Homo sapiens: one gene and its partners. The protein of the gene in region 1 interacts with the protein of each later gene in a pairwise test. Each region holds a gene or a part of one and is shown in the gene's direction. Other genes may lie near its edges.

What was found. The genes of interacting proteins can lie anywhere in the genome.
Region 2: the proteins of UQCC2 (region 1) and SNAP25 interact in a two-hybrid assay, tested with the Homo sapiens proteins (one large-scale study listed by BioGRID and IntAct).
Region 3: the proteins of UQCC2 (region 1) and RABGAP1L interact in a two-hybrid assay, tested with the Homo sapiens proteins (one large-scale study listed by BioGRID and IntAct).

The regions. Positions count from the first base shown.
Region 1 is NC_000006.12:33,705,201-33,708,700, reverse strand, and holds part of UQCC2 (ubiquinol-cytochrome c reductase complex assembly factor 2), read left to right. Parts: intron 1-3,500.
Region 2 is NC_000020.11:10,302,330-10,305,829, forward strand, and holds part of SNAP25 (synaptosomal-associated protein 25), read left to right. Parts: intron 1-3,500.
Region 3 is NC_000001.11:174,162,520-174,166,019, forward strand, and holds part of RABGAP1L (rab GTPase-activating protein 1-like), read left to right. Parts: intron 1-3,500. UniProt on the Homo sapiens protein: GTP-hydrolysis activating protein (GAP) for small GTPase RAB22A, converting active RAB22A-GTP to the inactive form RAB22A-GDP. Plays a role in endocytosis and intracellular protein transport.

The DNA.
Region 1 (3,500 bases):
GCAGCAGGAGGTGGGGCTTAGATCCAGTTGACTGACTAGTATGGAGCTCCTCCTTGGTTAAGCCGGTTGCCAGAAGACAGAACTGGAGGGGAAAGTAGCTCTGCTCATGCCGTCTTTCCATTTCCGTAGAGGAGAGAGGCAGTCAGTCCTCCTCTCAGCCTCTTGGCTTCCTTCGTCCTAATGATCACCCTGAAAGGTGCACAGTGCACCTTTGCCGGCGTGATCTCATTTAATCCTTAGTACAGCTGAGTGGTAGCCATTACTGTTCCCATTTTACAGATGAGGAAACATCAGAAAAACAAGACAACGCACTGGGGGTTCCGTAGCCATAAGAGACAAGCCAAGTGAGAAACAGACCCAGCCCCTCTGGCCCTAGTGTGCATCGTCTCCTGGGTGCCTGGCCTTTCCTCAGCTGCTGTTCCAAGTTATTGTTAGAACAACCTCTTATTCCATGAACGTCAAACCACTTCCTTCCCCTGGTTGCCCGTTCAAACCTTTTTGGGCCATAGATAGTTTGGGCAGCAAATGGAACTCCCTGTGTTTACCCACCTATTCTTTGCCCCAGCCACTACCAGTCCAGATGGGAAGAAAGATGGTCCTGGGTGGGACACCAGGCGGAGAAAAGCTGGGTTAACTAAAGGGCAAATCAATAATTCATACACAAAACCAGAGTACAAAAACCACTGCCTCCATTTATTCCACCTCAAATTGCCCTCTGGGGAGTCTTGTGGTCCACCCTAAACCCACCAAGTGGGGAGGTGGTGGTGGGAGCGGGAACACATGTAACTCCTCTTACACCCCATATCCTATTGTGTAGTTTTAAAAAGTCAGTGTTTATGGGCTTTGCCAATTTTGAATACAGTTTGTCTAAGAACACGTGTTTCCTACAGCGCTGAGAGCTTAATAAAAGAATTGCAACGTGGGGGAAGGTGGCACAACAAATGTAATTGTTGACCTAACAACAGAGAAAGGAGCAGATCTTTCTAATGAGTTCATTAGGTGCTTCCTAAAAGATCCCGGACTGCACACCAGCACCCACTTATGTAGCACAAGGTGCAACTCCGAGGGGCGTCCTAGAAGAGCTGCTGCTCTTCGCCCACCAGGGAGTTCTAACTGTATTGTATGCAAGTTTAAGTATAATAATATTGGCCCAGTTTGAAAGAAGTTAAACTTTTTCTTGGGTTTCTAATAAGGTAAATGGTATTTCCACCTTCTCAGAGGAGAATTCAAAGGTTTTTTTGATTCTGTTTTCTCAGTCATCCATTTGAGGCCTGGTCCTTGGCATTCCTCAGTGTGGCAGGGAGCTAGCTCCCAAGCCACCTGGCATATGCTGGCCACGGTGAAGCCATCTCAACGTTGCTCACCCCCACTTGTGGGCCCCCTGAAGTTATGCTTTTGAAGAGTGTCCTAAGAACAGATTATCCTATTTTTAATTATGTATTGAGCCCATCGAAAACCTGGAGTTGTAAGGAGAATCATCTCTAAGAGGGAATACAAACATCTCCATCTTTTTTTCTCTCCCAATTCTGAATGGCGCCAGTGTGAGCTAGGGTAGTATTCACACCAAGGGGTGGCGTTTATCTCTGCATATGTAAAGCTGCAGTGCTCCACCTGAAGGGATAAATTCTTGGCCACTTCTGGTGGGTCACTACTTTATTCAAAGATGTTTGGGGTCTGCCCATTGCCTCCTGGGCAGGTGGCAGGCAACTTTGTGAGACCTGCAGTGCCTCTGATCCTTGGTCCCAGCCTGTGTTTCCAACCTTGCCTCGCACCACCCTAACATGAGCCCCAGGCTCAGCAAGGGTGTCTTCTCATGGTCTCCCAAACTGGCCATGGTACAAGCAATTCTGATCCTTTGAGACTTAAGTGCGCTGTGGATCACTGCACCCCTACAACCGCAAAAAACCCAAACACAGAGTTTGTCAAGAATTTGGTGGCTTCCCAGGCTCTTGGAGCCCTCCCTGGGTTCCCCTTAAAAGCCCTGTCTGCCTAAAACACTCTTGTCCTGTGCCTCTTCATGCCTCATCCTCCCAGTCATTTCTGGTCCCTGTGTCACTCATGCCCAGGTTGGCACTCCTCACTCTCTGCACTGTCGCTGCAGTGAAACTCAGCCCTTTCCTGCCACACCTCCCCATCAGCACAGCCAGGTGCCCAACTCCCACCTCGGGTCTCGTGCAGCGGCCCGTGCTCCGCAGATCTGGCTCTCACTTACACATTGCCCCGGGCAGGGTTGGTTTCTAATTCATGTGTATCTTGTCTCTGTAGTGTGCCTGCCAGCTTCTCCACAGCTGGCCTGGGTCGTCGTCTTTGTGGCCCCTCACCGTCCCCTAGTGGAGCACTCTTTCTATAGTAGGTGCTCAAGAAATACATTTTCAACTCAATTGAAGGGAATAGGCTCCCATAACAGAATGAACTCATTTCAGAAGTTCATTACCAAGTCTTGAAAACCTTTTTTTATAGATCCTCCTGGACCGAATCCAGCTCTACCTTAATTAGCAAAGCAATTTGCAACACCCTTTCCCAAAAGTGCTTATGCGTCCCTTTGTGTGACTAGAATAGGGGCCGCTGTACCAATTGCTGTCACCACCCAAAATTCAATTTGCAAAATCGAAATCAGTGCCTGCAGCACTGATGTAGATTTGTATGTATAAAAGTTTAATATGGTAAAGAGAAATTTACTGACGACTGAACAGGGGAAATGCAAAAGGAGCAAAAATAGAGCTATAAAGGACACTCGTCAGATGAACATCTATTTTATTCACATTTGGGGAGCAGTGCTGAATTTTTCATAATGTCCCCACTGCTGCCTTTTCAAACCCAGCACTGCTATTAGTCCTAAAACGTCTGTGATCTCATTAGGTGTGAATGCAAAATCAGGTAATTTAAAGCATGTATTAAGAATATTTCTAAAAATGCACCGTCCATTTCATCAGAAAAACTGCATTTCAGAGCTCAGGAATGTTAGTGCTGGAGTCTGTGAATAAAGTGTAAGCTATAGGAACGTGGTGAGGCTTCTGGAATTCGACAGATGTCTCCACTGACATCCTTTTAAGTAGTAAGCATGACTTTTTTAATTGCTGAGCTTGAGTTATCTGTGGCTAGGAACCCAGCATTGACCAAGGCTTCATCACTCCTCAAGCAGTAAGAACTTGGCTAGAAATGGGCATGTCTCAAACTCCTGTCACCTCCACTGAGCTGCTTTTACAGCCTCAGTTAGACACCTTCTGACCTCAGACGGGAAACTGGATGGCAAGTCTGTTTTAGGACTCAGGTGTTTGGTTTTCTTTCTCAGGTTACAGCTGAGTCCAGGAATTCTGGGAACTCTCTAGGAGACTGTCTCTTTCACACAGGAAGTTTCAGAAGTGAGAGTGGTCGGGTGCGGTGGCTCAAGCCTGTAATCCCAGCACTTTGGGAGGCCGAGGTGGGCGGATCACAAGGTCAGGAGATTGAGACCATCCTGGCTAACACGGTGAAACCCCATCTCTACTAAAAATACAAAA
Region 2 (3,500 bases), on another chromosome or scaffold:
CTTCTATCAGTGAGAAAACACAGCATTTGAGAGCTAAGACTTTGAGTTCTAACAGGGTTTTGCCATTCACCAGCTCTGTGACCTGATTGCCTCACCTGAAGGATAGTAAGAGAACTGTTCAAACCTAGGATCAGAACAGGCTGGAAGTATGAACTGGGTTCTAAAAGTCACCTGGCATGGTCTGAAGTTGAAGAGATTCCCGGAGCGTTCAGAAGATGGGCTGAACAGCTCCTTCTAAACTTTTACTGGCTCTTTGGTGGTCATCCTGGCCTTCTCACAAGGACAAACATGTAACATATGTTGGGCACTCCAGCAAATTTAGAATTTTCTAAATAGAAATATAAAAATTGGAATGGGACAGCCATCATAAATAAAGTCCTACAGCATATAAGTAGGGTGATCATAGGGGCATTCTCCAAATACCAGGAAGACATCTACAAGGAGATTCCAGACTTTTTTTTTTTTTTAAAAGAAGCTAATTCTTTTATATAATAAAGGGGCAGTACTTTCTGTGTCAAATATTGCATGGGGTGGAATTTTCATATGCTTCAGAAGTAAGTTAGGTGGAAATCACAGATGCTCATTGAACATAAGTCTGTTTCAGCTCCTCCCAGATCCTTTAAGGATATACAGAGTAACCTCATGCTCTACTTCAAATATCCCCAGGTGAAGGCCCCTCAGTGCATTCTTGTACAGGAGATCCTAGAATGTTTGCGCTCAGGAATGCCATCATTTTAAAATGAATTATTTTTCTCATTTGAGCTTTTCAGAGCATTTAGTCTGGCAACATAATAATTCAATCTACAGGAACATTTCACATTGCTCTGATCCTGTAACTTTCCTTTGCACTGAAGTGTCATTATTTCTGATACCATTTGTAGCTGGAAAGGGAGGGCTTAAGAACCAAGTAAAATTGGTGAGATTATCCATTTTCCAATTGAGAAACCTGAGGTCAAAAATGTGAGTCTGTAGTTCAAAACAATCAAAATCAATGCCCTATCTTACTATGTAAATACTGATTTTAAAAGACAAGTGTCAATTATCCAAACAGATGACAGAGAACCATTGCCAGGTATTCAAAGTTATGATTAATCTGGAAATATGTTTGTTTTAACTTTGCAAATTTCTATTTGAACATGGATAATTCTAATGTCCTGAGAATTCACGATATGAACTGAATACAGAAGACTCAGCTCAATAAAAATTGGGAAGTACAGCACCACAATAGGTACAAAGCTGGTAATCATTGAGTGATACTGGTTGAGAGAAAAACAGTTTGGTTTCCCCACACTGCCTGGCAGCCTCCTCCTCTTCTTCCCAGGCTGTAGAAGGATAGACAGCATTACCAGTCAGGGAAGGACAAAAGAAAAGCCTCCATAGAATCGTTGTCTTCACCTCTGGTTGCTGATGCATTTTTCTCAGTGGTGATGGGAATCATTCATTTTCTGGAATTTAAAGATTTATGCTGGTAGCAGCCCTAGGTTTCATGCTGCATATACAGCAAACATAACCCAAGCAGTAAAGAGATCAACCAAGAGATTAAAGCCAGCCAGTTACAAAATCATAGTAAATGTGCATCTGTTAAAGAAAAGACAGTTATTAAACTCATAGAAATGAATCTTCAGAAATGCAACTTAAAAACTATTAAGCATCCCAGAAGCAAGCCAAGTTCTCATACGGTAACAATAATTGCAAGATAAACTAATGAGCCCTTCGTTTTGCAAAACATTATTCCAAGCACATTATGTGTATAAACTCATTTGATCTCAGCAAATTGAATAGTAAGTGATGAATAGTGTGGACTCTGACTCCAGGTTGCTAGCATTCAGACTCTGGTTTCTCCATTTATTAGTACTAAGACTTCAGACAAATTCCCCAGATCGTTTCTGACTGCTTTTCTCATTTGGAAAAGTGAGCTAATAATAGTACACACTTTATAGTTGATATTGTTAATCTTGATGTTGTCAAAGTTTAATGAGTGGAACAAAGTACAGTTGACCCTTGAACAACATGGAGATTTAGGGTGTCAACCCCCATGCAGCTGAAAATTTTTTGACTCCCCCAAAATTTAACTACTAGTAGCCTACTGTTGACTGGAAGCCTTAATGACATAAAAAGTCCATTAACATCTATGTTTTATGTATTATTTACTGTATTCGTATGATAAAGTAAGCTGGAGAAAAGAAAATGTTATTAAGAAAATCATAAGGAAGATAAAATACATTTATAATACTATGCTGTATTTATTGATACCATCAGTTTATATCATTTGTTTACAAGATGAATCATCAGTCTGAAATCTTCAGTACACATTAAGCAATTCAACTTTTTCTTGAAATGTCGTGACTTTTTTTTGCTTTTTGGGAGCACTGCTAGCATCACTGGTGGCACTTTGTATGGGTGCATGATGTTATTCAAGGTTTACAGTATTGCACTAAACATGATTTTTTTTAAATGTGAAACTGCAAGAGATCACTTTTTACTGCACTATGCAATTTACTGGAGAGATGGTGAGGATGATTAGTATCACAGAGCATTTTAAACGGATGCTCACAACACTTGAGTTCACCACAATAATAGGAGGTGGCTATGAAATTATTAGAGTAGTACAGTATGGACTACAGTTAATTTTATACAATTATGATTTAATACTTCACCTTTACATTTCTCTCAACTGCAAATAGGCCCATGTATGGTCTATATTTGTTTAAGTCTCATCAATTTTAACTTTTCATAGTAGATTTATATGTATTTTATGATAGTAAATAATAGACTAGACTAGTATCTACATATATTTTATCCATTCATGACATGCCTAATTTTTTCTAAATTTTCTCAATATTTCTAAGTAACACATTCATCTGCAAGTTTGTCTTAATTGTTGCAAATCTCCAAAGCATTTTCCAGTGTATTTATTGAAAAAAAATCCTGGCCAGGTACAATGGCACATGCCTGTAATCTCAGCATTTTGGGAGGCTGAGGAGGGAGGACTGCTTGAGCCCAGGAGTTTGAGACCAGCCTGGGCAACATAGTGAGATCTCATCTATACAAAAAATAGAAAAATTAGCCAGGCATGGTGGCATGCACCTGTGGTCTTAGCTATTTAGGAGGCTGAGATGGGAGGCTCAGTTGAGCCCAGGCAGTCAAGGGTGCAATGAGCTATGATCACACCGCTGTTCCCCAGCCTGGGCATCAGAGCAAGACCCTGTCTCAAAAAAAAGGAAGAAAGAAATTCACACAAAAGTGGATCCACACCATTCAAACCCATGATGTCCAAGGGTCCACTGTACATGCTCATGCTCATTAGCAATATTTTTTATCATCCAGGTTGGAGAAGAGAAAGCTGAGCCCCCAAGATGTAATTTGTTCAAAGGGACACTGCTAATAAATTAGCCATGGTTTCAATCCTACAGTATAAGAAGTGTAATTCAACTTGGTCCAACAGATGTGAATGCCTACCACAGAAGTCATTGAGTGTCTTTCTAGGATAGAAAGATAAA
Region 3 (3,500 bases), on another chromosome or scaffold:
GCATTCCAACCTACCATTGTCTTCAAGTGGGGTATGGATCATTATGACTGGTTAGAGGGGGTTTGGAGAATGAAGTTGTTGCTGTAAGCCTATGGGATTCCCAGGCACAGAGCTTGCTTATGTCTTAATTTTAATGAGTTCTATATTTTTATAACTCTTGACTTATATAAATGGGTCAGCCGTTGAGTCTGAGGATGACCAGCAGCCCAAGGCTATTCCAGGTGCTGGTATTTCTTTTTTTTTTTTTTTCTCTTTCTGTTTTTTTTTTTTTTTTTTTTTTTTTTAATTATACTTTAAGTTTTAGGGTACATGTGCACATTGTGCAGGTTAGTTACATATGTATACATGTGCCATGCTGGGAATTGAACAATGAGATCACATGGACACAGGAAGGGGAATATCACACTCTGGGGACTGTGGTGGGGAGGGGGGAGGGGGGAGGGATAGCATTGGGAGATATACCTAATGCTAGATGATGAGTTAGTGGGTGCAGCGCACCAGGTGCTGGTATTTCAAAGATGGCTCAGGGGTTTCTTGTGGAGATGATCTGATGAGCATTTTGCCATTACAAACAGTGGAGGCGGAGAAAGTACGGACTTGAGCCTGAGTTATGGTAAAACATACTCATTTTTAAAGGAGAGTTTTAATGCTGATATTATAGAGAAAGACATTGTTTGACTCCTAGACTTTCAGAACGGGAAATAATTTTGACTTTATAGTCAGTATTTGAATTGGGTATAAGTATGTGAACATCAGTGGACCCTAATAAGGAAGAGTTAATGAATTAAGAAGAGCTTGCATCTCTGAACATCTTCTTTTTATACTTCGTTTACTTCCCATATTGCTCTTATTCAACAGATGGGATGGCATAATTGGGTATACGAAGTTTATGCGCATGCTAACTCTTTTTTGTTATCTTTTGGTGTTTTTTGGTGTACTTTTTGGGGATTTTCCTGGGAAAGTTCTAGGCATATATTCAGTTGATTTAGAGTTAGATTTGGGCTAAGATTATTAGTATACTTGAAATTCTGAGCCTTCTTATTTTCTAAATAGCTTTTAAAGTAGAAAACATTTGCCAGTGCTGTTGGGCTTAAAAAAAAAAAAAACCCAACAACAACACAATTCTTTATAAATACTCATGAAAAATCTGGTTACAGGCTGTGTTGTGATAGACATAGTACAGCCAAAAATATATTTAAGAAAATTCTCACCCAGTTTAGTAAGCTTAAATAAGAGGAAAATAAGACAGTTTTTTTTTTTAATAAAAGGCTGATTTTCCCAGAATATGAAGCCTAACAACTGTTTGCTGTGTTATTTTCCCTGTTGCCTGTTCTAAATTCAGCAAGAACTATGCATCCCTAGTCCATGGTAAAAGCTTAGTTCCAGTAGGTGATTCTTAGTAATGGAAGTCTCATTGAGGGATGCAAGGGAATTTGATTGGGAAACATCAGGCATGGAACATTTACTTTTTACTGCTCTAATTTTCTGTGTATCTGGGTATTCAGTGGGGTGGGAACATGAGCACAAATACTAGAATTATCTGGATTTTTTTTTTATACTATGGATTTCCTCCTCTTACCCCCTACCTGCCCCCCAACCCATTGCTAAGTGAGCCATTGATAGTAGGAGTGTGTTATATCCTTCAGGTATGTAGGGCTGAACAAATGCTAAAAACCTTGGCACTTGGCTGATATTCCATAAACCAAATTCCTGCTCTGTGTAATTTGCCTTCTGGTGATATCAGTTTGTTACTCCCATTTTTGAAGAAAAATATGAATTGTGGTGAAGAGACATCTGTAACCAAGAGTAAGATTTATCAAATTATGTAGTATACATGAAGGACACCAGGAGATTGTTTACCTGAACATTTATTAAACTCATTTGACTGTGACCCACAATAAAAAATACATTTTACTACTTGATTCCGCAAGCGCACACACACACAAAGTTGAAAGTTTGGTGAAATAATATTTATCTTTTCAGGGCCCTACTGAGTTAGCTATAATGGCTTGCAAGACCAGTTGTGCATATTTCTTCCTATCTAGCTCTTTGTCCAGTGACATCATGTTGGTAGCTCAAAATTGGTCATGGTGGGAATATTTACACCAGGAAATTCAGCAAATGGTATTCTTAGGGCTTCCCTCCTCATAGGTAGTTGTTAAACATTTATAGCACCCCACTGCTTATAACACACATTGATATATTCTGTTATTTCATTTCATTTTAAAAATGCTGGGTTTTGACTTCCAAATTAATTTTACACCCAGCTAATGGATTATAGCCTACATTTAACAACAAATACAACTAGTTTAGCCTACCCTCTTAACTTTGTAAGTGAAGGAACATACTAAGAGCCTCAAGGCCAAGGTCAGATAGTGAGTTATTAGCAAAGCCAGGGCTCTGGACTCAATCTGGAGTTGTTTCTGGTGGGCTTCTTTCCTAACCTCACTTAGTGTGTATAAGGGATTGTGTTAATCAGTTTGAATAAAGATGGACCTTGACCCTGAGGACTTTATGCTTAGGTGGGGGATTAAATATGGAAACAACAGTGATAATGAAAGGCAGAAAGTAATGGGTGGTAAAAAGATAAAGATAAGGAACTATAAGAGTTTAGAGAGGAGGGAGAGATTACTTTTATTTTTGTTTGTTTGTTTGTTTTTCGTTTTTGACCCAGGCTGGAGTACAGTGGTACAATCTCGGCTCACTGCAACCTCTGCCTCCCAGGTTCAAGTGATTCTCCTGCGTCAGCCTCCCTGAGTAGCTGGGATTACAGGCGCCAACTGCCACACCAGGCTAATTTTTGTATTTTTAGTACAGACGGGGTTTCGCCATGTTGGCCCGGCTGGTTTTGAACTTCTGACCTCAGGTGATCCATCCGCCTCAGCCTCCCAAAGTGCTGGGATTACAGGCGTGAGCCACCGTGCCCGGTCTACTTTTAGTTTTAAGGATAAAAGAAGAGGTGACATTTGAACTACTTTTTTTTTTTTTTTTAATTTGGAGACAGCATCTCACTCCCGTTACTCAAACTGAGTGCTGTGGTGCCATCACAGCTCACTGCATCCTTGATTTCCTGGCCTCTAACAGTTCTTCTGCCTCAGCCCCCAAGTGGCTGGGACTATATAGGCACACACCAACATGCTTGGCTAATTTTTCATTACTTGTAGAGACGGGGTCTCATTATGTTGCCCAGGCTGTTCTTGAACTTCTGGACTGAAACTGTCCTCCTGCCTCGGCCTCCCAAAGTGCTGGGATTACAGTTGTGAGCCACCACGCCCGGCCCCTGAACTATGCTTTGAAGAATGGGTAGGATTTGGACATGTGGAAATAGGACAACTAGTATGAGAGAAAGGCCTTTCTGGGCCAGGGGCCAGGGTGATCAAAGGCATACAAGCATAGACAGGGAAAAATGAGTAGTGAAAGAGCTAGGCAAGAAAGAGTCCGTTAGCACCAGATGGTTAAGAGCCTAGAATGCCAGTTTTCCTTTCTGCTTTTCAGTTTAT